4 linked regions of the Homo sapiens genome follow. The protein of the gene in region 2 purifies or fractionates together with the protein of the main gene of each other region. This does not show direct contact. Each region holds a gene or a part of one and is shown on either strand. Other genes may lie near its edges.

What was found.
Region 1: the proteins of SLCO1B1 (region 2) and WAPL purify together in Homo sapiens (affinity purification with mass spectrometry; 2 studies listed by BioGRID and IntAct, with this or other methods). This does not show direct contact.
Region 3: the proteins of SLCO1B1 (region 2) and USO1 purify together in Homo sapiens (affinity purification with mass spectrometry; 3 studies listed by BioGRID and IntAct, with this or other methods). This does not show direct contact.
Region 4: the proteins of SLCO1B1 (region 2) and SYNGR2 purify together in Homo sapiens (affinity purification with mass spectrometry; 2 studies listed by BioGRID and IntAct, with this or other methods). This does not show direct contact.

The regions. Positions count from the first base shown.
Region 1 is NC_000010.11:86,497,770-86,504,793, reverse strand, and holds part of WAPL (wings apart-like protein homolog), read left to right. Parts: intron 1-4,050; coding exon 4,051-5,076; intron 5,077-7,024. UniProt on the Homo sapiens protein: Regulator of sister chromatid cohesion in mitosis which negatively regulates cohesin association with chromatin. Involved in both sister chromatid cohesion during interphase and sister-chromatid resolution during early stages of mitosis.
Region 2 is NC_000012.12:21,197,191-21,204,214, reverse strand, and holds part of SLCO1B1 (solute carrier organic anion transporter family member 1B1), read right to left. Parts: intron 3,708-7,024; coding exon 3,543-3,707; intron 1,725-3,542; coding exon 1,529-1,724; intron 1-1,528. UniProt on the Homo sapiens protein: Mediates the Na(+)-independent uptake of organic anions.
Region 3 is NC_000004.12:75,727,569-75,734,592, forward strand, and holds part of USO1 (general vesicular transport factor p115), read left to right. Parts: intron 1-7,024. UniProt on the Homo sapiens protein: General vesicular transport factor required for intercisternal transport in the Golgi stack; it is required for transcytotic fusion and/or subsequent binding of the vesicles to the target membrane.
Region 4 is NC_000017.11:78,163,617-78,171,580, forward strand, and holds the start of SYNGR2 (synaptogyrin-2), read left to right. Parts: upstream 1-4,964; 5' UTR 4,965-5,000; coding exon 5,001-5,099; intron 5,100-7,200; coding exon 7,201-7,438; intron 7,439-7,893; coding exon 7,894-7,964. Other genes in the region: C17orf99 (protein IL-40), read left to right, coding at 479-1,050. UniProt on the Homo sapiens protein: May play a role in regulated exocytosis. In neuronal cells, modulates the localization of synaptophysin/SYP into synaptic-like microvesicles and may therefore play a role in the formation and/or the maturation of this vesicles.

The sequences.
Region 1 (7,024 bases), on a different chromosome or scaffold from region 2:
CTGGAGTGCGTGGCTACTCACACAGGTGTGATCATAACAGCAGCCTCAAATGAACCGCTGGCCACAGTGCCCTGGGTAGCTCTAGGTGGGACTATAAGCACGTACTGCTATGTCCCTGTTATTCCTTTTTCTTTTTTTTTTTGAGACTGAGTCTCGCTCTGTCGACGGGGCTCACTGCCACCTCTGCCTCCCAGGTTCAAGCGATTCTTCTGCCTCAGCCTCCCAAGTAGCTTGGACTACAGGTGTGTGCTACTACGCCCGGCTAATTTTTTGTATTTTTTAGTAGAGATGGGGTGTCACCGTGTTAGCTAGTCTGGTCTCGATCTCCTGACCTCGTGATCTGCCCACCTCTGCCTCCCAAAGTGCTGGGATTACAGGCGTGAGCCACCGCACCTGGCCTGATGGTTGCTTTGAGATAAAATAAATTAATAGAAAGTATTTAGAATACTACCAGGCACATACCGAGGGCTTATATAAATATAGTTCAGCTTTGTTTTACTTTGAGTTTTAATTGTGAGTGAAATTGAGTATCCTTCATAAGTTATTTAATTCATTATAGATATATATTTTAATGAATTGCTTCTTTGTGTTCTTGGCTTATTATTTATTCATTTATTTTTGAGGCAGAGTCTTGCTCTGTTGCCCAGGCTGGAGTGCAGTGGTGCTATCTCAGCTCACTACAACCTCTGCCTCCTGGGTTCAAACAATTCTTGTGCCTCAGCCTCCCAAGTAGCGAGGACGACTGGCATGTGCCACCACGCCTGGCTGGGTTTTTTTTGTCTTTTTAGTGGAGACAGGGTTTCACCATGTTGGCCACACTGGTCTCGAACTTCTGGCCTCAAGTGATCTGCCTGACTCGGCCTCCCAAAGAGCCGGCATTATAGGCCTGAGCCATTGTGCCTGGCCCCTAGCGCCATTTTCTACTGGGACATTGGACTTACTGATGTGTAAGGATTCTTGGTATATTAAGGAATTTACCTTTTGTGTTTCCCTAGCAACTAATGATAAGCATTTTTCATGTGTGTATTCTTTTTTTTTTTTGAGATGGAGTCTTGCTCTGTCACCCAGGCCGTGGTGCAGTGGTGTGATCTTGGCTCACTGCAAGCTCCGCCTTCCGGGTTCACGCCATTCTCCTGCCTCAGCCTCCCGGGTAGCTGGAACTACAGATGCCCGCCACCACGCCTGGCTCATTTTTTTGTATTTTTAGTAGAGACGGAGTTTCACTGTGTTAGCCAGGATGGTCTCAATCTCCTGACCTGATGACCCACCCGCTTCGGCCTCCCAAAGTGCTGGGATTACAGGCATGAGCCACCACACCCGGCGAAGTTTGTTTTCTTATCATGACAGCCATTCAGATATTTAAAGGCAGGTTTCATGTAATGGCAGTTTTCTTCCATCCCTGCACCAATTAAACCTTTCTAGTTGCCTCAACTGTATTTCATGGGTTATGGTCTCCAAGCCACTTTGTATCATTTGCACAGATTTCTTACAGGTTAAAGGCATTGTTTAAGTTTAGTCCTCAGCACACCGTGAGATAAACATTTGCTATTTCCACCTCAGCCTCCCAAAGTGCTGGGATTACAGGTGTGAGCCCCCGCGCCCAGCCAGTGAATTAGTTTTGTTGTTGTTGTTCTTTTAAACAGAGTCTCGCTCTTTTGCCCAGGTTGGAGTACAGTGACATGATCTTGGCTCACTGCAACCTCTGCCTCCCGGGTTCAAGCAGTTCTCCTGCCTCAGCCTCCTGAGTAGCTGGGACTACAGGCGCCCGCCACCACGCCTGGCTAATTTTTGTGTTTTTAGTAGAGACAGGGTTTCACCATGTTGGCCAGGCTGGCCTCGAACTCCTGACCTCATGATCCGCCCGCCTTGGCCTCCCAAACTGCTGGGATTACAGGCATGAGCCACCACGCCTGGCCTAGCATTTTAGTGTTTAGCAGCCACCACTAGACGTAGTGTAATATAGTTTGGTATGGGTCTTTTTTATGAAGTCTCTTTTGACTATTGATTTAATTGAGAACCTCTGCAGTCATTAGCCCCTCTGGGCCTTTTTTTCTCATCTGTGTAATGATGGGTTTGGTAAGAAATCAAAGGAAGTATCTTCATTTTCTTATAAGAGGGTAAAGGAAGTCTGTATATATTTGTGTGTATAGACTAGTATACAGTTACACAGATGTATACATTTGTGTGTTTATGTCTACAAAAATAATGTCTATTTGTATCTCCATCTCCATTAAACAGTTCAACTGTTTAATCTTCAACAAACAATTCATTGCCAGTCTTGTTTCATTTTTATCCTCACTAAAGTAAATTCAAGATGTTGTATTTGATTCATAAATATATTTTTTTAACAGATAAGGACTCCAAAAATATACAATTTTGGCATTTTTTATGTTTTGGCTTTTGAATAGACAACTTACATGCAGTATAAAATTCAAGAAGTATGAAAGTCTTTTCTTGTTCCTTATCCCTTAGTCATTCCATCTCTAAGAGCATCCATATCTGTACATAATGTAGAGCTGCCTCATTCTTTTTAACAACTGCATAGTATTCAGGTGTGTTGCTATATGGTAATTTAATTCTTTATTAATTGGTATATTGTTTATGAAAGCAAAAACCAGGAAACAGTGTTCTATTGAGTTTCTTGTTACTTATGTAATTTTGTGTTCGTGGAAAGTTATTTCTAAATACTTGTAAATGAAACTGCTGGCTTCAAGAGTAAGTCCTTTCTTTCACATGTACATTTTTAGTTTTAAAAGATATTACCAAATCTTAACCTGTTAAATTACATTAAAACCCTTTGGAGGCTGGACGTGGTGGCTCATGCCTGTGATTGTAGCACTTTGGGAGGCAGAGGCAGGACGTTTGCTTGAGCCCAGGAGTTCAAGACCAGCCTAGGCACCGTAGTGTGACCCTGTCTGTTAAATAAAAAGGGGAGTTAGGCAGGTGTGGTGGTGCACACCTGTAGTTCCAGCTGTTTGGGAGTGCTGCTCAGGAGGCTGAGGTGGGAGGATCACTTGAGGCCTGGAGGTCTCTGAAGCTGCAGTGAGCTGTGATCACACCACTGTATTCCAGTGTGGGTGACAGTGAGATCCTGTCTTGAGGGCAGGAAAACCTATTGGGTAGAATTAAAAATTATGCAGTGAATCTGTCCATGTAAAGCATCCCTCTCACCTGTATTTGATGATGCTAATTGAGATTTGTAAATAGCTTTTCTTAAATGTAGATGTATTTTGTAGAAGTAATTTTATTGTTTGGCATAGGGTATACATTTTGTCAGTGTTTTTCTACAAGTAAATGTTGAGGGAATTAATAATACCAGTTGGAATCATATTTGTATCTCATTTGGAAAGGTTGTAAAAATGTTCTGATAGTAAAAATTGAAGGCAACAAAAATGAATTCTCCACATACCAGATGAATAGGCAGGCTGAGGATTTATTACTGGCTGATATGCATAAATAGCCACTATTAGCCATTTAACTAACACACCAGAACTACTGCTAAAAATTCCCTTGAGATTATATGGCATTTAGGATTAGAAGAAAGAACAGAAATAGCTAGAGAAACCTGATCCTATGGACAGGTTTCTGGATAGAACTAGCATACCTTATGGGCAGCCCTATCCCAGATAAATAAAAACACTGGTAGAAGGTTTTTATTAACTGTTCAGTTGGTTTAGGTTTTACTAAATGATTTTTAATTTAAGCATCTTTATTTGAAAAGCCCATAATACCCCTAAGAAGGTTTGGCTGAGTCATTTACATGTCATTCTGAATGGATTCAGTTGCTTAACCCTGCTGAAATTTCTTGTGAGTTTACAATTTTAAGGGACTTGGTTGCCTGAGGAAAGGTCAGTAGAAGGCATGAGAGCTATACACTGAAAAGATAGGAGAGGAAATGTCTGATATGTAAATGTTAATTTCTTCACAACTTAAAATTATTTGCAGTTCTTCCAAGATTGATCATATACTATTGATTAACCACATATATGTTATTTATTAACTTTTATGTTGATACCACTCATGTTTTTATCCTTTGACTTATTTTTACAGATAAAGTGGAGAATTTTCATGAAGAACATGAAAAGAATAGTCACCATATTCACAAAAATGCTGATGACAGTACTAAGAAACCCAATGCAGAAACTACAGTGGCTTCTGAAATCAAGGAAACAAATGATACTTGGAACTCCCAGTTTGGGAAAAGGCCAGAATCACCATCAGAAATATCTCCAATCAAGGGATCTGTTAGAACTGGTTTGTTTGAATGGGATAATGATTTTGAAGATATCAGATCAGAAGACTGTATTTTAAGTTTGGATAGTGATCCCCTTTTGGAGATGAAGGATGACGATTTTAAAAATCGATTGGAAAATCTGAATGAAGCCATTGAGGAAGATATTGTACAAAGTGTTCTTAGGCCAACCAACTGTAGGACGTACTGTAGGGCCAATAAAACGAAATCCTCCCAAGGAGCATCAAATTTTGATAAGCTGATGGACGGCACCAGTCAGGCCTTAGCCAAAGCAAACAGTGAATCGAGTAAAGATGGCCTGAATCAGGCAAAGAAAGGGGGTGTAAGTTGTGGGACCAGTTTTAGAGGGACAGTTGGACGGACTAGAGATTACACTGTTTTACATCCATCTTGCTTGTCAGTTTGTAATGTTACCATACAGGATACTATGGAACGCAGCATGGATGAGTTCACTGCATCCACTCCTGCAGATTTGGGAGAAGCTGGTCGTCTCAGAAAAAAGGCAGATATTGCAACTTCTAAGACTACTACTAGATTTCGACCTAGTAATACTAAATCCAAAAAGGATGTTAAACTTGAATTTTTTGGTTTTGAAGATCATGAGACAGGAGGTGATGAAGGAGGTTCTGGAAGTTCTAATTACAAAATTAAGTATTTTGGCTTTGATGATCTCAGTGAAAGCGAAGATGATGAAGATGATGACTGTCAAGTAGAAAGAAAGACAAGCAAAAAAAGAACTAAAACAGCTCCATCACCCTCCTTGCAGCCTCCCCCAGAAAGCAATGATAATTCCCAGGACAGTCAGTCTGGTACTAACAATGCAGGTAAGAATTTAAAAAATATGTATAATAAGTACAATAGTTCCCCCTTACCTGCAGTTTCACTTTCTGTGGTTTCAATTACCCAAGGTCAACCATATTCTGAAAAGAGGTGAGTACAGTATAATAAGATAAAGATCCCATTCACATAACATTTATTATAGCGTATTGTTAAAATCATTGTTCTATTCTTAGTCATTGCTAATCTCTTACTGTGCTTGATTTATAAATTAAACTTTATCATAGGTATGTATACGAAAAAACATAGTATATACAGGTTTTGGTGTACTATTCCTGGTTTCAGGCATCCACTAGGAACTGGCATGTATTCCCTGTTGATGGCTGGGGGGGCTACTTTAAATGTGTTTTTCAGGCTTGAATCAACAGCTGCATAGTTTCTTCCTAGATACTCAAGTTTAGCTTGTTATATTTATTAAAAGTACCTGTTAGAACCGTAAATCACCTTATCTAAAGGTACAGCATTTCAAGTGTTAATGATCAGGTCCCAAGTTGTAAGGAACCAATTTGTAGATTGGAGAGTCTTCATATTTGAGTTTTAATTTAACCTTTAGCACTTGAGAATTTTAAAGCATATATGTGTATGGGGCAGGGACACCAAACATCGTGATGTTTCCACTTGACAAATGCAAATGCAGTGAAAACATAGATTAGATTTTGGGCCTTTGGAACTGTACTGATAACAGGTGGTTATAATGAGGGAAATACCAGAAGATTAGAATTTAAAAACTCTTTGTGGTTGGCTAAAAACTAATAAACATTCAAAACACTCTCAAACCCTCCTAAGTTGGTTTAATAAAATTGAAAAGTGCCAGGTAAGTATGCATTCCCTCTTAACTGTGGAAATTTAATTTGTGCCGAGATTGTAGACTCAGTAGTGACTAAGGGTCCTCAAGGAGTTCAGTCTCCACTGTGAGAGACAAACAAAAGAAATAGGTTAGCTCTGCCATAATTAAGTCATTACCTGACAAGGGCTTTGTGAAGTGGATTGACTATCTAGTGAGGAAGAATTTGTGAAAGCTTCTAGGATACATGGTTTCTTAACCAAATATAGTTTTTCTGGATTGGTTTACATATTAAATAAAGCTTTTTTCCTGGTAGGGCCACAGAAGTGTCATTATGGTAAATTAGAATTACAGTAGTATTTTGAAATACAAATTCTCTTGTAGAATATAAGTCATTCTTGAGATTACCTACCATTTTGCTTTATTTGGCCTGAAAATAGTTTTGCTTAATTTATTCTTCAAAACTAGACATACACAGGAGTACCCCTAGGGGCTCACCCCTGCCTCCCCCGAAAAAAAAGAAAAAAGAAATACATCCAGTGTTGTCTTTGAATCTTTTCTGGAGACTGGAAATTTGCAGCAGCCTTACTATAGTCACTTAAGATCTGGCTAGGCAGAACAGCTAGGCATTTGTTTCCTCAGTAGAATGATAAATACTGCTATACAATACCAGCGCCCTTGTCCTGCTGTAGTTTACTTATAAGCTTTTATTCTAACCTGGATAGCAAGTTATCCCCTGCAATTGAGAATCTGTGGCTGAAATTTACATCTTGTGTAATACAACTTTTAAAGATGTAAAATGTGAAATTAGACTCCCTTTGAGAAACTTGAAGTAGATGCTAAATAACATTTGAAAATTAGAGGCCATTTGGTTGATCTACCCAAAGTTGAAATTTGAGTCTTCATACCATAAGTGAAACAGCAAAAAATTTTAAGCATTGGGATAGAGAAGAGTCTTTCTATGTTTCCTATTTTGTTTCGCTTAGAAAAAGATACATATTTTTAACCAGTTGGGAAATAAACTGACTCTTTGGTTAGTTGTGTTTGAAGACCGACAAATCATTAAACTTTGTTATATTAGGTCATTTTAAATCTCTTGCCAAGGATAACTGTCCTCCTTTTCTGGTGTTTTAAATGTGGCTTTTGTAGTT
Region 2 (7,024 bases):
ATAAAGTCTCAGGGATCCTTAGAGATATTCAGAACACATTCCGAGACCTCTGCAATAATTCATACTTAAAAAAAAACTTATCCCAGTCGCAGGATTTTATGAATGTTGAATCCATTAATTATATTATTTATCATTAGATTATGAGTCCCATGAGGGAACTGATGTATCCTACAAATATCCTTAATATTTACCTTTAAGGAAAGGCTTAATAAAATTTTATTAAATGAAACAAATTCTGTTTAACTCTGCTGCCATCTTTTGTATACTTTGTACAGTGACTAACCTTGTTGTCAAGAAACTGGCCTGTCCTTACAACCAAGAAGGCTTTTGAACTAAGGGTGTGACATAGGATCAGTCTAGAGTCTAAAGACATTGTGTGACTTCAACATGTTACATTTTTTCTGACTCTTCAATAATAAAGGAAAGTATAATACAAGGGTTGGATTGCATCATCTCTAAGGTTCTTTTACCTCTAAAATTCAGTATTCTAGGACAATGTATTTTAATTTACTACAGTAGTTGATGGTGGATAGGAGATACCAATAACAGTTCAGAATTAGCAGTGTGCAGGGAAACAATTTCAGATAACCTTGGCAAGCCTCCAAGAATAGCACAATGTTTATAGAAGAAAATGTGGGAATATTTGACAAGTTAAAACCAACACCTCATGGGATCCAGACTTTGAAAGCTCAGCACCAGTAGTAAGCAGCACTAAAGAACATGGTTACTGAATTGTGATCTGAGCATCTCTGCTTGTTGCTTGAATGTGAACCTTCCTAAGCTTAAATTGTTGGCTATATTCAGGAAATTATCAGAAAACTGCATAGGATTCTTGCCCTTGATTTGAGGTGGAGACTGTTGCACTAAAAATACTTTGCTATACATGGTAATCATGGAAAAGTAAAGATTCTTCAATGTCTAATATGCAATTATATATAGAATATTTCTTAATGCTACTTCCAATGTAGATAATATCAGAAAAAAACAATATTAGCTTGCAAAAAAGAAAATTCAGTACAACATTAAAAGTGTTCTTTTGTTAAGATAGTTGTTGAACATCGATATGAACTGTAGATAAAAGTTGTTTAGTCACTTTTGGCTAATGCCATTTATGTAACTCTTATGATCCATCCAAGATTACAGTGGTGGTTAAGACTAAGAGTTTTGGACTTAAAAAACTCAAATTTGAGTTAGAATCTTAATAATGCTAGCTGTGTAATCCATGTATTTCTCTAAGCCTTACTTTTCCCATTCATAAAATAATGATAAAAGTACCCACTACTAATTGTAAGTACCACATAAATAATAGTTATTATTATTACAACCTATGTTGCTTCTCTTTAGTGGAGGAATAAAAGAATGTGTTTGAGGTCTTAAGAAACAGATATTTTAAAAATTTTAAAATTGAAATTTCTCTTAACTTAAAGAAAGTTTAGTTAAAATTGTTTTCTGCCTTATATTACTTATACAGAGACTCTTAATTTGATGGTTAACATATTATGCAATTGATATAGTGATATATACAAACCCATCATAGGTCATGGTTAGTCCGGCAACTGATTTGTTTTCACAGAGTATGAAAAAATATAATAGGTAAAAGGACAATGACATCACAGCAGTAAAACATGAGAATTTGGCAATTCCAACGGTGTTCAGTTTGAATTTTTTAATGATATATCCTCCTAAAAACATTCCACTTGCAAAAATAGGTATGGTTATGACTCCTAGAAAAAAAAGAAAAAAAGTTGTAATCATATATGAGTTTTCTGATATGTCTTTATAGATGAAACACAATGTATGTCAATCAAATTTATTCAATATTATTGCTTCTTTTTAAAATTTTACTTTAAGTTCTGGGATACATGTGCAGAATGTGCATGTTTGTTACATACATATACATGTGCCATGGTGGTTTGCTGCACCTATCAAACTGTCATCTAGGTTTTAACCCCTGAATGCATTAGGTATTTGTCCTAATGTTCTTCCTCCCCTTGCTTCCCACCCCTCAACAGTCCCCGGTGTGTGATGTTCCCCTCCCTGTGTCCATGTGTTCTCATTGTTCAACTCCCACTTATGAGTGGGAACATGCAGTGTTTGGTTTTCTGTTCCTGTGTTAGTTTGCTGAGAATGATGGTTTCCAGCTTCATCCATGTCCCTGCAAAGGACATAAACTCATTCTTTTTTATGGCTGCATAGTATTCCATGGTACACATGTGCCACATTTTCTTTATCCAGTCTATGATTGGTGGTCATTTGGGTTGGTTCCAAGTCTTTGCTATTGCAAATAGTGCTGCAATAAACATATGTGTGCATGTATCTTTATAGTAGAATGCCAATCTTATTACTTTTTAAAAAGAAGAATGATATAGCAGTATGGTGGTAGGGGATCTGTGTAATTTGTTCCTGCCAATGATGACAGTTTGGTTTCCTCAATAGCAAAAGGCAGTGTGGCTGAGGATATTTGTTGGAGCAGATAATTTCTATGAGGCAATTTTGTTTTTCTGGAAATAAACAACAACAAAACACCATCTTTCTGCCTATGGAACTTCATCTAAAGCCTTTTGCCTCTCTCAGATAGAGTTCTAACCCTCAGTAACTCACACTAAATCTGCCCAGAGCTTAACAACATAAAAATTAATATATCTTTGTCATTTATTAAAAAACATACAGAACCTGAACTGACAAATCGCTCTACATACAGGATTAATAATGTTTAATCCCTCCTATAACTTTTCCATATCTTTGTCTAATAAGAGTTAACAAAGATGAAGTCTTCTCTAGGAAAAAGCTCAGGCTAGGTTACTGGGAGTCAAAACATTATTTTTCGATTTTAAACTTTTATCTTAAGATCAACAAAGAGATTATCTGGAAGCTTGGTCTCCTGCTTCAGTACATTCATTTTCTTGTTTACTTATGACCTAGTTACATACCACATGATAAGTTGTTTAATTCATCATATATTTATATTGAATTTCTATAATGTGTCTACAATACTAGAGTTGTGGGAAGAATAATACAAGGAAACTTTCCTTAATAAGCACATCTAAATGTGCCATTGAAAATAGATATTGTAGCAAAAAATACTCTGTAAAATATATTTGTTTTGAATTATGCATATTTTGATGTATTTAAATCGATACTCTTTTTGGAACTATTAGTGTCATATTTTTGTAAGTAACTGAGTCTTGATTTCAAAGTCCATAAATTATAGAATTATAATGATTATAATTACAAAAGGGTTTGTCTCAGATCTTAGCACTAAATTATAAGATCCAATTATACAGATACTACCTCTAAATTGTCCATTTATTTGCAACATTTTTTTCAGGAACTCATCTAAAATAAGATGCAACTTCAAATGCAGAGCAATAGTGACATCACAAGTTTTATATGTTTAATAACATTTGAGAAAGAATACAAGAAAATTATACTTATCCTGTATTACTAAAATACAAAATCACTTTCACAATAAAATACCACTTGGAATACAGTATTTAGTATTATTTCACTTATTAAGCACACAAGTAAAAAATATGTCTTACCCAATAAGATGTTAGCCTTAGATGAAGGCTGACCATACTGTTGCTCTACGTATTTGAAGACATAAGTAAAAGCACCAATATAGCTGCTTACTTGTAACAACGTCAAAAGCACAAACATAACATACAGGGGATTAGTAAGGATGCTTTTAAAAGACTGGAAAAAACCTGTAAAATTGTAAAAATAAAGAAAATATTTGAATGCAACTTAAATATACATTTATATCTAAAATTTGTGAACGTAAGTCATGTAAGATTTAAAATTCTATAAACACATAACACAAAGAGTGAGAATAGCCTGCAATACCACAGGCTGTTCACAGCTTTTAAATATATTCTTTCAATATTTTCCATACGAATATTAATATTTATTAGTTTAGTTTATTTTACCCTCAAATAGGGTCATACGTAAGTGCTGTTTTGTAACTTGCTTTCTTCACTTAATATTTGGTTATCCTGGGTACTTTACAATACTATTGCAAACATATTAATTCACTTATTCATTCATTCAGCAAATGTTAGGTTTTCAACTGGGTACCAGACAATATGCTAATTGTTCAAAAAACAAAAGTGAAGGCCGGGCACAGTGGCTCACTCCTGTAATCCTAGCACTTTGGGAGGCCGAGGCAGATGGATCACCTGGGGTCAGGAATTCGAGACCAGCCTGGCCAACATGGTGAAACCCCAACTCTACTAAAAATACAAACATTGGCCAGCACGATGGCACACACCTGTAATCTTAGCTACTTGGGAGGCTGAGGCAGGAGAATTGCTTGAATTAGGGAGGCGAAGGTTGCAGTGAGCTGAGATGGTGACACTGCACTCCAGCCTAGGCAATAGAGCAACAAGACTCCATCTCAAACAAACAAACAAACAAACAAACAAAAAAACCCAAAAACAAACAAACAAAAAGTGAATAAGACATATGATGTTTCTTATTTATTAGTACTTAATGATATAAGTATTATATTAAAAATATAACTATTAAATGGAAATGTAAAGACAGCATAATTCAAAACTCACAGAAATAAGACCATTGAGGTTCAAAATTCTTAAAGATTAATTTAGTATGAGGACTCAGACCTCCTGTTTCTCTAGTATACAGCTCTTCTACCATAACATACTTTCTCAGTAAATTTGGCAATATTATTAACCCTCTGTCTTAAGATACAAGGAAAGCAGCCAGGGGATAATATTGTGTCCCAAGTAGTATTATAATAGTAATAATACAACCACCTATCCCTACAAACAGCTGTGGTAACAAACTTCTAACTTCTGTTCATGGTAGAAATTATGTCATTTGGATCTGTGATCACCAGGTCAACTAGCTGTAATAGGACTTAAAAGTAGAAGGAACTACTTAGAAAAACAGTAGGAAGTATCAGAGTTCATCAAGACAGAGCCAAGATATGGTTACTGAGAGTTGGATGATACGGACTTTGAAATATTTTTCTCTATTTAAATCTCTAAAGATTTTCATTAGATATGGTCAGAACTAAGACATCCATTTAATGTCAGCTACGAAACAGTTGCATCTGCTTGAAATAAGGAGTAGAAGGAGTTAGAGAAAAGAAACAGAAAAGAAAAAAAGAAGAGATAAGAAAATGTATAGTGGGAATAAACAACATTTAAAATTCTTGGGCAAAAGTGCCACATTTCTCTCCACAGGTCTCCCCAGTCATGAAAAACCATCCCTGATTTGTAAGTATTATAAGTGAGTTGTGGCCTTTCTTCAACAGAAATGGAGTATATACATTCACACAAGCGTTGCATTTTTGAGGATGAGAAATTCAATGTCATCCAGTGTAAACTTCTGTATAGTCATGATCTACTATATATCATTAATAAGTGGATCAATAAACAACTTAAGTGGCATTAAACTAAGTACCTTAGGAAGCAATTTCCTCCACTTTTGAAAAGTTCTCATTGTTTACACACTGTTTTTGTAATGAACTGAAATCATCTTTTCATTCTAATCAGTTTTAGTTCTATTCAAGAGCATATGGAATAAATTCAATATTTTTTCTGACTATATATTCTTATTTTATCCATTCCTAATAGATACATACTTAAGATCCTCTTTCTTAGGGTCACACCTACAAAAACTGTTCATAATAGAGATTATGTCTACAATTGTCCTATTTTTACAACTTCATTATCCTCTCTGTTCTGTTTGGATCACAGTCAACCCCGCTCCTTATAGGTTTAGACAATCTACTATTTTTTAAAGATTTGATTTGGTACAGTAGAAACATCATATACAAAATGAAAATTATTGGTATAGTACTTTTAGTGTGAATGTTAAATTTTAAAAACATAAATGTTTAACATCTGATTCTTAGGAAAACAAACTTCTACTTGTAGTATATCCCAATTTCCATGGTAATAAATCATGGTAATTCTCTTGCCATGAACAATTTCAACCTACCAATGTAGCTGAAACTTAACAGTCCTCTGCTATGAGCCAATATAAAGAGTACCAGAACACCACTGCTCTTGGGTTAGTGTGATAGAAAGGAGAAAATAGCAATAAAGTAATAAGTAAAAGACCTGATGAAAGGAAGAACCTAGGCTACACTGGAGAATTTGTCATCTTACTTTAAAGAAAACTTGAAAAAGATGCTGAGGGTTTAAGTGTTGCATTGCTTTGGCTATTTCACCATTTCTCCCAAATCTGAAAACTGCTGTCAACACCTCACTGATTCACATATCTTGCTCTGGCTACTGCCAAGTCATTCTCTTTGTTTATTGACTCTCAATGGTTCTCCATTAGTCCCAGGGTTTATATTCAAAAGAGGAGGCACTGTCAAATGCTGATGCATCCTAATTTACATTACTTAGTCTAATTATCTTAACTACCACCTTTGCTTCCACTTTATTTTGAATATTTAGATAAGATAGATAGATAGATAATTACCAAAATAAATATTACTCTAATTACATAGGGAGAAACTTCTCCCGACTTCCTTCTCCTTAATCCATCTCTACACCTGATAATAGTTAAGTTTAATTTCACCATAATACTTAAGGCACTATATTGCTATTGTCTATATATTTCTCAGCATCACCCACTAGGTTCTTGAAAAATAGAGGTAATGTTTTATTACCAGGGCATAGTACAGTTCCTGGTACTACTTGTTGAATAAATGAAGGAATGAAATATTATAATTCTTTGAACTCTCCCAGTTTAGACCATATAATACTAAAATTAATATTTACTATTTGGCTCATAAAAAATGGATGTTTGTAAACTTTTGTTGGTTTCTCCCTGCTAAAAAGTACAAACCTAATTCTCTTCCACTTGTTATGTGCTCAAGACATATATGTTAACTTTAATAGGAGTTTTAGAAAAATAATTTATCTAAATTTAGTGCAAAAGAAAGCCAACTCCAGATGAGTTGGGTATGCTTTATTATTTTGGAATACTCATTCTTCCTTTTCATTGAGATTAACAACTCCAAATTGACAATGAATGTTAAATACTT
Region 3 (7,024 bases), on a different chromosome or scaffold from region 2:
TTAGAAGTATTTATAGAGCATCAGTGGAGTGTATATACAATTTTAGATGTTTTAATTGATGATTTAGTCTGGCCAGGATATTTGAGTTACCAGAGCTTGGAACCCCTAGCTTCTATATTATCATTTATTATTTTGTAGTTTTTTCCATTTCTGCAAAATTAAATTTTTTTCATGGTGGCTTTCCATCTTTCTTGCTTTTTCTAACATCTTTTTTCCAATGGAAGGGCTCTTTTCTTTGTCTGAATTAGACCTGTTATTTAAATTCATCATCAGCGCCTCCCCTAATCTGTACTTTCCCCCAGCACGTTTCAGATGCTTTTTCCTTTCTGAGCTACCTTTACATTTTAACTACAGTGTGCATATATCTTATTCCTTCTAGACTCTTAAAGTGTCTTTAGGGCAGGGTTCATAATGTATTTTAATCTTTGTTTTTCCACAGTAGTAGATGCCCAGTAAATACTTGTGAAATGAATTAATTATAGTTTTATTTGAAAGAAATCACAGATCTGTAATTATAGCAACTTACGTTACTAGGTACTAAAACACTTTTTAAAGACTAGAAACTGAAGTTCTCAAATGAAGTTCATTGTGTCAAGCTTTTTACTTAAGGGATTTTTTCATATTTACTAAATGCTTTGACTGCTTTCTTGTTTTTTTTTTTCTTATTGAATTTAAGTATCTTTTAAATGTGTGAGAGTTATGTGATTGATTGTATAGTATCTAGCTTTTCATACTCTTAGTTAAGAGTAACTTTGGACTGATATTAAGATGTTCTTCAGGCCGGGGGCTCACGCCTATAATCCCAGCACTTTGGGAGGCCAAGGCAGATGGAGCACTTGAGGTCAGGAGTTTGAGACCAGCCTGGCCAAACTCCTTTCTGGAGTCAAGCACATTTTTATGGTGAAACCCTGTCTCTACTAAAAATACAAAAATTAGCTGGGCATGGTGGCACATGCCTATAATCTCAGCTACTCAGGAGGCTGAGGCAGGAGAATCGAGGCGGTGGTTGGCAGTGAGCAACCACTGAGTGGTTAAGATTGTGCCACTGCATTCCAGCCTGGGCGAGAGAGCGAGACTGTCTCAAAAAGAAAGATGTTCTTGAGAACCTGTCAAGTAGTAAATATTTTATCATAGGATAGTCAATTCTATAAAGTACTGGATATTTTAAATTCAGAATTTCATCCACATTAAACTTTTTCTGTTTTAGAGTCATGTACTTTTGTTTTTGTTTTTGTTTTGTTTTGTTTTGAGACAGAGTCTCGCTCTGTGGCCCAGGCTGGAGTGCAGTGGCGCAATCTTGGCTCACTGCAAGCTCCCCCTCCCGGGTTCACGCCATTCTTCTGCCTCAGCCTCCCAAGTAGCTGGGACTACAGGTGTCTGCCACCACACCGGCTAATTTTTGTATTTTTAGTGGAGATGGGGTTTCACCGTGTTAACCAGGATGGTCTCGATCTCCTGACTTCGTGATCCGCCTGCCTTGGCCTCCCAAAGTGCTGGAATTACAGGTGTGAGCCACGGCACCTGGCCCCAGAGTCGGGTACTTTTACATTTCATTTCTCTTTTTTACTTGACACTGATTTCTGGTGATTGAAGCCTCTTTAGCCTTGACACAGTTTGCTGGGTGCATATTATTATAGTACAAATCCTACTCATGCTTTTGTTTTTTAGTTTTCTCTTTTTCCCTAACCACTAGACCACCAGGGACTTCATGCTTTTGAATGTAAGCTTATGTGTGCTTAGTGTTATATCTGCCTTCTATCTAGCACCTTTTTTTTGGGTAGGGGGGTGGGGTACGAAGTCTCGCTCTGTCGCCCAGGCTGGAGTGCAGTGACGTAATCTCGGCTCACTGCAGCCTCCGCCTCCTGGGTTCAAGCAGTTCTCCTGGCTCAGTCTCCCGAGCAGCTGGGACTACAGGTGCACGCCACCACGCCAGGCTAATTTTTTTGTATTTTAGTAGAGACAGGGTTGCACTGTGATGCCCAGGCTGGTCTTGAACTCCTGAGCTCAGGCAGTCTGCCCGCCTCGGCCTCTCAAAGTGCTAGGATTATAGGCGTGAGCCACTGCGCCCAGCCCCCAACTTGTACCTTTTTTAAAGCTAGTTTCTTGAAAATTCCAAGCAAGTGTTAACTACATTTGATGATGAATCATAGAGGCATTTTCTGTTCTCAAGTTGGACCCCGAGACATGAAAGTTGCTAATGTCCAGAAAAAGCATACAGAATTAGAACATTGTTATGGGGTCTCTTTCCAGATCAAACTTTCATCAGCTGTCTCAGAAAGCAGAAGGGCTAACAATATAAACACAGCCATATTTTCTTTTAATAAAAATTGTTATTAAAGAGTGTGGACTTAAATTTAGACATAGTTTTCGTTTAGTCAAGCACATTTTATACCATGTTACTATAAATGTGTAGTCTGAAATTCCTATTTGGGTTGATGTATTCTACATTAATAACCAGGTCAATGTCATAACTGGAATGTGTTTTCTCTCTTGGCCTGTTTTGCAATAACAATGTCGGAGAGAACTGTAATAATGATTTGTGTTTTGGTCATTTCTATATCGAAGCACTCTTTTTAAGTAGGGCCTATTGAATACTACATGGCTTTTTGGAAGGTTAATTTTGTAGATTATATAGGGTTCATTTAAAAGTTAGAATCATTTAAATTATACATGCCGTAGCATTACCAAGGTATGCTTCAAAAAATTTGAATAGATGTCCATGAAAAAAATTTTGTCAGCAAAGAAGTGTGTGCAACGACCACTAACAAAGAAAAAACCTCTAGTATTTATGCAAGGTTTTGTAAGCAGGCACTGTGTTATAGTTTCAGATATTTTTAAAATGTAGATAAAAAGTAAGCTGTTTGCCAAATTTATCTGACCAGACCTTTTTTTTTCCTCTAGGGAACTTTGTTATCTATTATTTTGAGAAGCATACTTAGGGAAAAATTGTCCAAGAGGATATATAATTCTGATGCCTTTTTCTTTATTTTCCTTTATTTCATTAAAAACATTACTCTTGAATCTGATTAGGAAAGAATATTAGAATTCCTTATATACATTTGTTGATACCAAATACTGTTCCTCTTTCTTTTTATGTATTTACCTTTTATTATTAATATTACTGCTTTGTACTCTGCTTTTTGTCTGTTGTAGGTATAGTAAAGTTATGCTTATTATTTTTATACCTCAAGCAGAAGTGCCATAAACATTTTTTGTGTCAAAAGTTATTCACCATTAATTTGAAAACTTTTTTTTTTTTTTAAAGAGACAGGCTCACAATATGTTGCCCAGGCTGGTCTTGAACTCCTGGCCTCAAACAATCCTCCTGTCAGCTTCCCAAAGTGCTGGGATTACAGAAAAACTTTTGTGGTGTTAGATTTTGAGATGCTAGCATTTGTGATAGGTTATTTGGTAGACATGTTTCATTATGACCCCTTGCTTAAAACGATGTCCTTTTGAAAAGCATAGTTCATTTATGGGAAAGAGCATGGAGAATAAATGAAGCAGTATATTACTTGGCTGACTTAAGGTAACTATAATGGAAATGGATTCATTGGATTTGTCTACAAAGAGACTTGTGTTTGATTTTTTAATGTTCCCACATCTCTTTTTATAGATTATAATAATTTAGGTCATATGAAGATAAGATTTGCTTTTGCTGTTTTAATAAAGTCTTCTCAGTAACAGAGTTAAATTTAAAACAAATTTCTGGGCCAGGCCTGGTGGCTCACGCCTGTAATCCCAGCACTTTGGTAGGCTGAGGCGGGTGGATCACCTGAGGTCAGGAGTTTGAGACCAGCCTGGCCAACATGACGAAACCCTGTCTCTGCTAAAAATACAAAAATTAGCTGGACATGGTGGCAGGTGCCTGTAATCCCAGCTACTAGGGAGGCTGAGGCAGGAGAATCACTTGAACCCACGAGGTGGAGGTTACAATGAGCCAAGATCGCACCACTGCACTCTAGCCTGGGCAATGGAGTGAGACTCCGTCTCAAAAAAAAAAAAAAATGACTTTTGTAATCTAAAACAATAATATTTTTATTTCATCTAAAACATAAGTGAATTGACTATTAGCATGAATTATTTGTCTTACAGTTAGGGAAATTCTGTTTTAGGAAGGTACAACTATGTTTTAAATTTCAAGGTAAGATTATATCATAAAATTAAATCAATATTAGGTGCTTGACAAATATTTGTTGGATAAATGATTGATTGATTAGAGTTAGCATTTTAATTGCCATTCCTGTTCTTTATTTTTTCCTGTCAGTTAAGTAGTTACTGAATACTTAAAAAAAAGAATTGTGAAAAAATACTGCAAGCTGTATTACACTAGTGTCCTTTAATTTTTTTGCTTTTATATTTTTATAAACGATTAAACGTAAATTAGTATTGTTTCATAAGCAAATGTGTTTATGAAAATAAACATTTCTCTAAACAATATTTTTTCCCCATAACTTTAAAGTTTTAGAAGGTTACATGTGCAAGTTGTTACATGGGTAAATTGCCTGTTGCTAAGGTTTGATGTATAACCATCACCCAGGTAGTGAGGATGGTACCTGATGGGTAGTTTCTTAACTCTCGCCCCCTCTCCCACCTTCCCCCCGTTGTTGTCCCCAGTGTTGACTGCTCCCATCTTTAGGTCCGTGCTTACTCATTGTTTAGCTCCCACTTGTAAGTGAGGAAATGCAGTATTTGGTTTTCTGTTCCTATATTAATTCGCTTAGGATAATGGCTACCAGCTGCATCTATGTTGCTGCAAAGGGCATGATTTTATTCTTTTTCATGTCGACATAGTATTCCATGGCATATATGTACTGCATTTTCTTTATCCAGTCCACTATTGATGGACACCTAGGTTGACTCCACATCTTTGCAGTTGTGAATAGTGCTCCAGTGAATATGCAAGTGCATATGGCTTTTTGATAGAATGATTTATTTTTCTTTATTTTCCCTTATTTCATTAAAAACATTATAATTGAAATGACTATTAGCATGGATTATTTTAGTCTTACAATAAATAGTCATAGTTACTGGACGCAGTGGCTCAAGCCTGTAATCCCAGCACTTTGGGAGGCTGAGGCGGGCAGATCACGAGGTGAGGAGATCAAGACCATCCTGGCCAACATGGTGAAACCCCGTCTCTACTAAAAATACAAAAATTAGCTGGGCATGGTGGCACCTGTGCCTGTAATCCCAGCTACTTGGGAAGCTGAGGCAGGAGAATCACTTGAACCAGGGAGTTGGAGGTTGCAGTGAGCCAAGATCGCGCCACTGCACTCCAGCCTGGCGACAGAGCGAGATTCCATCTAAAAAAAAAAAAAAAAAAAAAAGTCATAGTTGGGGGAGTTCTGTTTTAGGAATGTTTTAAGCTTCATGAAGGTAAGGTTATATCATAAAATCACGTCTGTAGGGCCGGGTGCGGTGGCTCATGCCTATAATCTTAGCACTTTGGGAGGCCGAGGCGGGCAGATTACAAGGTCAGGAGTTCGAGACCAGCCTGGCCAATATGGTGAAACCCCGTCTCTACTACAAATACAAAAATTAGCCGGGCGTGGTGGCGGGCACCTGTAGTCCCAGCTACTTGGGAGGCTGAGGCAGGAGAATAGCTTGAACCCAGGAGGCAGAGGTTGCAGTGAGCCGAGATCACGCCACTGCAGTCCAGCCTGGGCAACACAGTGAGACTCTGTCTCAAAAAAAAAATTAAAAAAAATAAATTAAGTCTGTATTAGCTGCATGACAAATATTTGTTGAAAAAATACAGTAGTGAGACTGCTGGGTCGAATGGTAGTTCTGTTTTAAGTTCTTTGAGAGATATCCCAACTGCTCTCTACAGTGACTGAACTAAAATTACATTCCCACCAACAGTATATAGCATTCCCTTTTCTCTATAACCTCTCTAACATCTGTTTTTTGTTTGTTTGTTTTGTCTTTTTAATAATAGTCATTCTGACTGGTGGGAGATGGTATTTCACTGTGGTTTTGACTTGCATTTGTCAGATGATTTAGTGGTGTGGAACATTTTTCCATATATTTCTTGCCTATGTATATGTATTGTTTGGAGAAGTGTCTGTTCATGTCCTTTGCCCATTTTTTAAGAGTTTTTGGTTTTTGCCTGTTGAATTAAGTTCCTTACAGATTCTGAATATTAGACCTTTGTCAGATGCATGGTTTGCAGATGTTTTCTCCCAGGTTATAAGTTGTTTGTTTACTCTGTTGATAGTTTCTTTTGCTGTGCAGAAGCTCTTTAGTATAATTAGGTCCCACTTGTCAATTTTTGTTTTTGTCACAATTGCTTTTGGGCACTTAGTCATAAATTCTTTGCCAAGGCCAATGTCCAGGATGATATCTCCTAGATTTTCTTCGAGGATTTTTTTTTTTTTTTTTTTTTTTTTTGAGTAGGAGTCTGGCCCTGTCACCCAGGCTGGAGTGAGTGCAATGGTGCGATTGGCTCACTGCAACCTCTGCCTCCCGGATTCAAGCGATTCTCCTGCTTCAGCCTCCCAAGTAGCTGGGACTACAGATGCACACCACCACACCCAGATAATTTTTGTATTTTTAGTAGAGACAGGGTTTCACCATGTTGGCCAGGATGGTCTCGATCTCCTGACCTCGTGATCCTCCCACCTTGACCTCCCAAAGTGCTGGGATTACAGGCGTAAGCCACCATGCCCAGCCTCTTCTCGGCTTTTTATAGTTTTAGGTCTTATATTTATGTCTTTAATCCATCTTGAGTTAATTTTTGTATATGGTAAAAGGTAAGGGCCCAGTTTCATTCTTCTGCATAAGGCTATCCAGTTATCCCAGCACCATTTATTGGATAGGTAGTCCTTTCTCCATTGCTTGTTACTGTCAATTTTGTCAAAGATCAGATGGTTGTAGGTGTGTGGCTTTAGTTTTGGGTTCTCTATCCTGTTCCATTGCTCCATGTCTGTAATAGGCTGTTTTGGTTAGTGTAGCTTTGTAGTATAGTTTGAAGTGGGGTAGTGTGATTTTTCCAGCTTTGTTCTTTTTGCTTAGGATTGCT
Region 4 (7,964 bases), on a different chromosome or scaffold from region 2:
AGCACTTTGGGAGGCTGAGGCAGAAGATTGCTTGAGCCCAGGAGTTTGAGACCAGCCTGGCCAACATGGTGAAACCCCATCTCTGCAAAAAATACAAAAATTAGCTGGATGTGGTGGTGCACACCTGTAGTCCTAGCTACTCGGGAGGCTGAGATGGGAGAATTGCTCGAGCTGGGGAGGCGGAGGTTGCAGTGAGCCTAGATCGCGCCATTGCACTCCAGCCTGGGCGACAGAGCAAGACCCTGTCTCAAAATAAAGTAAGAATAAGATAAAAACCAAATGTGAAATTGTGTGGTACACACGGCAGGTAGGGCAGCAGCCCAGACACAAGGTGGAGGGCAAACTCTAGAAGGCGGCCTGGAGGAGGCGGCAGCCACAGCTAAGCTCATTAGGCATTTTGTAATGAGGAGAACTTACTGAGGAGGAGGGGTTTAAAACCGCTCAGCCATGCCTGTGCTACCTTCTCCCACCCTGCCAGAGCCAGTGTCTGAGCTGCGGGCCAACTTCACTCTGCAGGACAGAGGGGCAGGCCCCAGGGTGGAGATGATCTGCCAGGCGTCCTCGGGCAGCCCACCTATCACCAACAGCCTGATCGGGAAGGATGGGCAGGTCCACCTGCAGCAGAGACCATGCCACAGGCAGCCTGCCAACTTCTCCTTCCTGCCGAGCCAGACATCGGACTGGTTCTGGTGCCAGGCTGCAAACAACGCCAATGTCCAGCACAGCGCCCTCACAGTGGTGCCCCCAGGTGAGAGGGCCCTTGGATTTCCAGAGGGGCAGCTGGCGCTTCTGTGCCGGGAGGGTGCTAGTGTCCAAGACACAGGTCGATGGGAAGTGGGACAGCTCTACCCGGCCACTGCTGAGAGCAGAGAGGGCACAGGAGGCAACCATGCCCACCCTGGCCCCTGCCTAAAGGAAGCCCAACCCAGCTGCCTCCGCCCCCTCCCAGGAGGGTTGCCCAGGGCACCCACCATCGTGCTGGTTGGCAGCCTTGCCTCCACTGCGGCCATCACCTCCAGGATGCTGGGCTGGACCACGTGGGCCAGGTAGGAAATGGGTGCTCGATGCAGGGAGGAGGGAGAGCTGCTGATGGCCTGAGAGGTCCAACCGGGCCCTGGCTGCAGAGCTCAGGTGGTGGGGCTTGCAGGGCAGGGCTGTGGCCAGGGCAAAGAGCGGCCATCACCGCTTACGCATGACTCGAAGGTGTTTATGAGGACCTACTGTGTGCCATGTGCCTACTGAGGCTTACACATTCAAGGCGTTATCGGACCCTGACCAGTGCTCCCAGGTGCCCTGTAACACAGTCTGCTGGCCTCTGGGAGGGCAGTCTCCTAAGTTCTTTATGGGGTCTGAGCAGGGATTGCAGGGATGATGCCTCCAGGAGACCAAGGTGGACCAGGAGCTCCTGCCTTCTGTGAGAACCACCTTGGGCAGTCTTTCCGAGGTGGTGGCAAGAGCCTGGGGCCCAGCCTCCCAGGGTCCCCTCTCCAAGGCCATGGCTTTACTAACATGTAAAGTGACCAAGGCCTTTGTAGTGTCTGAGTGCAGGCACCACAGGCCTGTGTGCTCTGCCTGTCTGGCTTTGGTGGTGGCCAGCCCTGCCTCTGTGAACTCATCTCTCTTTGTTTGGGAGACACTGCCGTGTCCTGGTTCTCATCCTCTGCCCGTGGCCCAGGCCCTTACGTGGCTCTACCAGGAGTCTGTCCTTGGCACTTTCCCATCTCACTTCTACCAAGTCTGTTCTTTCCAGAAGCCAGACTCGTGGGTGAGCCATGTCACCTCGCCGAGCCTCAGTTTTTCCTTCTGTAAAATGGGGTACAGCCTTCATTTAGTGGGGTGAGTAAGCCTCATGTCTCTTCTGCTGGGGCACTGATGTGCTTGGCACCATAAAACTCCCAGAGGCAGGCCGGGCACAGTGGCTCATGCCTGGAATCTCAGCACTTTGGGAGGCTGAGGCAGGCGAATCACCTGAGGTCAGGAGTTCGAGACCAGCCTGGCCAACATGAAGAAACCCCGTCTCTACTAAAAATACAAAATTAGCCGGGCGTGGTGGTGCGCACCTGTAGTCCCAGCTACTCGGGAGACTGAGGCAGGAGAATCACTTGAACCCAGGAGGTGGAGGTTGCAGTGAGCCGAGATCGTGCCATTGCACTCCAGCCTGGACAAAAAGAGCAAAACTCCGTCTCAAAACAAACGAACACTCTCAGACGCCTCGGGAGGGGATGGCTGGGAGGTGAGCCTGCCTGACTTGAGTCTCCACTGCTTTGTCAAGGTGGTGACCAGAAGATGGAGGACTGGCAGGGTCCCCTGGAGAGCCCCATCCTTGCCTTGCCGCTCTACAGGAGCACCCGCCGTCTGAGTGAAGAGGAGTTTGGGGGGTTCAGGATAGGGAATGGGGAGGTCAGAGGACGCAAAGCAGCAGCCATGTAGAATGAACCGTCCAGAGAGCCAAGCACGGCAGAGGACTGCAGGCCATCAGCGTGCACTGTTCGTATTTGGAGTTCATGCAAAATGAGTGTGTTTTAGCTGCTCTTGCCACAAAAAAAAAAAAAAAAAAAAAAGGGTAACTATGAGAGATGGTGGATATGTTAACTTGCTTCGCTATAGGAACCTTTGTGCTATCTATATTATCTATATGAATCCCATCATATCAGGTTGTCTACCTTAAATATACACAAAAACATTTATTTAAAAAAAAGAAAAAAGCCTGCCAGCTGGGATTCTTGGAGTGCTGGTGGCCTTCAGCAAACACAGACACTGTTGGTGTGAGGGCTTCAGGAGGGTCACAGAAATAAGGGGGTCTGTGTGGCCCTGTCCTCGCCTCTCAGGTGCTGTCACATCTCTCTGGGTGTAGGGAGAGGGAGGGGGGCACACTGCGAAAAGGCCCAGCCCCTCCCCCCCACCTGCTCCCCTCTTCCCTGGAGAGGCACCCCACCTCCTGGTGGCCCAGTCCTATGGTTCAACTCTCACGTGGTCCAGCTCACCTGGGTTGACTGTGAGCCCCACCTGGCACACCTGCTGTTGTTAATCTGCACCTGCAACTAGCAAAGGGGGGTCTGGAATTCTTCCGGGTTCAGTCAGCCTGTGATCCCACACCTCTGTCTGTACAACCTCCGCTCCCCACTCCAACACACACAGAGCCTGCCCCAGCCTACCCTGCACCAGACCCTCTGTACCGGTTTTTCTTGGGATGGAGGTAGAGAGGGACGGAGGCGAGAGGGGGCTGAACTGGAACTGGATTAAACTTTGCCATCTGCCTGTCGCCCTGAAAACTTCATTTCTGTTTGCATGCCATATATATATTTTTTTATATGTGGTCTTTTCTTTTTTTTTTTTTTTGAGATGGAGTCTCGCTCTGTCGCAATGGTGCAATCTCGGCTCACTGCAACCTCCGCCTCCCGGGTTCAAGCGATTCTCCTGCCTCAGCCTGCCAAGTAGCTGGGACTACAGGCACGCGCCACCATGCCCAGCTAATTTTTGTATTTTTAGTGGAGACGGGGTTTCACCATGTTGGCCAGGGTGTTCTCGATCTCCTGACCTCGTGATCCGCCTGCTTCAGCCTCCCAAAGTGCTGGAATTACAGGCGTGAGCCACCACGCCCGGCCGATATGTGGTCTTACTCTGTCACCCAGGCTGGGGTGCAAAGGCGTGATCTTGGTTCACTGCAAACTCCGCCTCCTGGGCTCAGACAATTCTCCCACCTCAGCCTCTGGAATAGCTGGGACTGCTAGTAGCTGCCACCACGCCTCGCTAACTTTCGTTTTTGGTTTTGTTTGTTTGTTTGTTTGTTTGTTTGTTTTGTTTGTTTTGAGATGGACTCTTGCTCTGTTGCCCAGGCTGGGGTGTAGTGGCTCGATCTCAGCACACGGCCACCTCTGCCTACCGGTTTCAAGCAATTATCCTGCCTCAGCCTCCCAAGTAGCTGGGATTACAGGCGCTTACCACAACGCCCAGCTAATTTTTTTGTTGTTGTTGTATTTTTAGTAGAGACGGGGTTTCACCATGTTGGCCAGGCTGGTCTCAAACTCCTGACCTCAGGTGATCCAACCGCCTCGGCCTCCCAAAGTGCTGGGATTACAGGTGTGAGCCACTGCGCCCGGCCTTGCACACCATCTTTTTTTTTTTTTTTTTTTTTTTTTTTGACACAGAGTTTTGCTCTTGTTGCCCAGGCTGGAGTGCAATGGCACAATCTCGGCTCACCGCAACCTCCACCTCCCAGGTTCAAGCGATTCTCCTGCCTCAGCCTCCCGAGTAGCTGGGATTACAGGCATGCACCACCACACCAGGCTAATTTTTGTATTTTTAGTAGAGACGGGGTTTCTCCATGTTGGTCAGGCTGGTCTCGAACTCCTGACCTCAGGTGATCCAACCGCCTCGGCCTCCCAAAGTGCTGGGATTACAGGTGTGAGCCACCGCTCCCGGCCTTGCACACCATCTTAAGTGTGACGCCACACTGCCCTTCACAGCCTTGGGGCTCTGCCCAGACCAGGAGGAATGGGGAGGGGGTCTTTGACCCTACCCCAGGCTTAGCCCCAGAGAGGAGGAAAGAGTGGCAGGCCAGGCAGGGAGGGGCTCCAGGGTGTGGCCTGGGTTTTTCAGTGGGATGGGGGAGGGGTTGCTTATGAGCCTGGGTGGGTTCTTGGTAGGTGGTGGGCTTCCTAGAGGAGGCGGTGGGAGGGCAGGGGCAAAGAGGGTGAGCGGTCCTCAGTTCGTCCGTCTTCCCGGGGGACTCTCTGACCCTTTCTGGTCCGTGCTGCGGCCGGCGTGGCCCGGAGACTAGCCCCTCAACCCCGAGGTGGGGTGGACCCGGGTGCTCCGCGGCCACAGCCCCTCCCCGCCTCTAGAAGCGCAGTCCCGCGGCTCGCCCGCCGCTCGCGAGGGCCGCACTTTGCCCTCGGTCCCTAGCGGCGCCTGGCCACGCCCCCGGCGGGTGGAGTCGGGCGGGGCGCCGGGCAGGTTCCTCTGCGTTCCGCGGCGGCGGCAGCGGCGGCGACGGCGACATGGAGAGCGGGGCCTACGGCGCGGCCAAGGCGGGCGGCTCCTTCGACCTGCGGCGCTTCCTGACGCAGCCGCAGGTGGTGGCGCGCGCCGTGTGCTTGGTGAGCCCGGGGAGGGCGGGCCGAGGGCACCCTGGGGACCCCCTCTCCGTCGCCAGGCCCGGCGGGGCCCCTAGCCCACGAGCGCGACAGGTGGCGGCGGCCGCGTCCGGGGCCTGGCGGCGAGCGGGGCCGGCGTCCAGCGTCCCGGGCCCCGCCTTCCCGCCCTCCACAGTCTGTCCCGCTGTCCCCTCCCGGTCCCGGGTCCCGCCACCCACCCCACCCCCAGCCTCGCGCCCCGACGCGGGGTGTCCGGATCTCCGCAGGGAGCGGGCCCCTGCCTCGCTGGCAGTGGGAGGAGTTTGGGGGCGGCTCCCGGACAGGTGGCCCGCACGCCGCGACTCCCAGATTGGGGAGTTCACCGGGACGGGGTTTTCCGAAGCCACGTGGGGTAAGGGAGGGGGCGGGGGGCGACCCAACGCCCGGAAACAGGGTGTCCTTCCCACTCGGGGCAGGCCACGGGTCCGCCTTCCCACCCGAAGTTGAGGGACCCCAAGATGTACCCCCTCCCTGTAAGGTGGGCAATACCTCCAAAACCAGGTTTTGTGTGTGTGTGTGTGTGGCGGGGAGGGGGCCTGTTCTTGGACAGCCAGCCCTGAAAGCTGGAGGGGGTGGCATGAGGGGGCAGGCAGAGGTGGGCCTGCTGTGCCCAGACCATGCCTGGGCCTGGAGCTTCTGAGGTCCTCCAGGGCGCCCACACCAGCTCCCAGCCAGGCTGTGGGATCTGATCGCCTCTGTCCTGGGCTGTGTCCAAGAATCAGGTGCCCAGTGGGTCGGGATGGCAGTGCCAGGAGTCCTGGATGGGCACCCTGCTCCCATCATCCCGGAGATCCGGCTTCATCTCCATCTGGGGGCGGGGCCTGTGACTGCCAGCTCCAGAGCCCTATGGAGAGCTCCCTGGGACAACAGGGCAGGACTGGCAGGGGAGAGTCCTGGGGCCATCCCAGAGGGATCCTGATGCTCACAGACCTGTCCCACACCTGCTGAGGTGGAGCAGGCGTGGGTGGTGGCCTTCAAGTTTAGGGAGGTGGTATGGGGCTCTTCCCAAGGGGCTGGAGCTCCCCTACATCCACCCTGGGTCCTCCAGGTGTCTGAGTTCAGAGCTGTATCCACAGGCCTGAGTTAGTCCCCTTGTAGTGCCCTGTGCATGCAGGGCCCTCTGTGGGGTGGGAGACAGACTGGGAGGGACCAGGATGCCACAGAGGCTGCAAGTCCTTGTGTGGAGACAGCTGGCCAGGCTGAACCAGGGAGGGTTCCAGGGGTTCCAGGAGGTGAAGACACAGGGGCGCCAGCATGGCCTTCCCAAGAGGGCCTGTCCACCTTCACCAAGGTGTTCAGGCAGAGGCTGGGTGCTGTAGAAGTGACTTGGGCTGAAGGTGACGGGGGATGGGTAGTCTTTGTGACTTGGCCTGTCTTGGTTAAACCTCTTTCAAGGTGAGGTTGGGCTGGGGATGGAAGGACTGCCCTTCATCCATCAGGTACCTAAGCAGAATGATTCCTGCAGCAGGCCGATGGGGCAGGAGCAGCCCCTGCCTAGGAGGTCCCTGCCCATTCCCCACCCCTCCCCGGTCCAGGATTCCCAGGGGCAGGCCCCCTGGTGCCTGCAGATTCTCATCCTGGGGTGCATCAGGAAGCACTTTGCTCATCAGCTCACCTCCACAAGTTTGGAGGGGCTAAGATGTCAGCCTCCAAAAGGGGACAGCAGGCTGGGCGAGGTGGCTCATGCCTGTAATCCCAGCACTTTGGGAGGCCGAGGAGGGTGGATCACCTGAGGTCAGGAGTTCCAGACCAGCCTGGCCAACATGGTGAAACCCTATCTCTACTAAAAATACGGGTGTGGTGGAGGGCACCTGTAATCCCAGCTACTAGGGAGGCTGAGGCAGAATTGCTTGAACCCAGGAGGCAGAGGATGCAGTGAGCCGAGATCGCACTATTGCACTCCAGCCTGGGCAACAAGAGCAAGACTCCATCTCAAACAACAACAAAAACCCAAAAGGGGACAGCAGTAGTGGGAGAGGCCAGCATCTGTACACCCCATCAGGGTCCCCGCTGTGTGTGCCCCTCAGGCGGCCACCAGCCCTACCAGGTCCTCCCCTCCCGGCAGGTCTTCGCCTTGATCGTGTTCTCCTGCATCTATGGTGAGGGCTACAGCAATGCCCACGAGTCTAAGCAGATGTACTGCGTGTTCAACCGCAACGAGGATGCCTGCCGCTATGGCAGTGCCATCGGGGTGCTGGCCTTCCTGGCCTCGGCCTTCTTCTTGGTGGTCGACGCGTATTTCCCCCAGATCAGCAACGCCACTGACCGCAAGTACCTGGTCATTGGTGACCTGCTCTTCTCAGGTATCTGCCTGTGGCACCTCCATTTGATCTTGGGGGAGGCATTAACTCTAGGGTTCCGCAGCTGGGAGGGTCTCGGCCTCTCTGGGAGGGGCAGGGAGCAGCTCACTCCTCCAGGGCATTTTTAGGAAAGGGTTTTCAGCTAGTGTTTTTCCGTGCTTGAATGGCACCAGCCCTGCCTGGGGTAGCTAGAAGCTGAGTGGACCTGCAGCACACCCGAGCAGATGGGCTTTGCCTCTGCCCCTTTTGTCCCCTAGGCTGTCTGCTGTGGCCCACCCTGCCAAGGCCCGAGTGTGGGGGACTTTGGAGGTGGCTCCCGGCCCGGCTTCCAAGTCCTCCCCTCCATAGTGTGGAGGCTCCCCCGGGAGGTCCCTGCCCTACCTGCCCGCGTCCCCTCCCAGAGTCCTGGAAAGCCCCTCCCTTTCCATGGAACTGACGCTTCACCCGTCCTCCCCCAGCTCTCTGGACCTTCCTGTGGTTTGTTGGTTTCTGCTTCCTCACCAACCAGTGGGCAGTCACCAACCCGAAG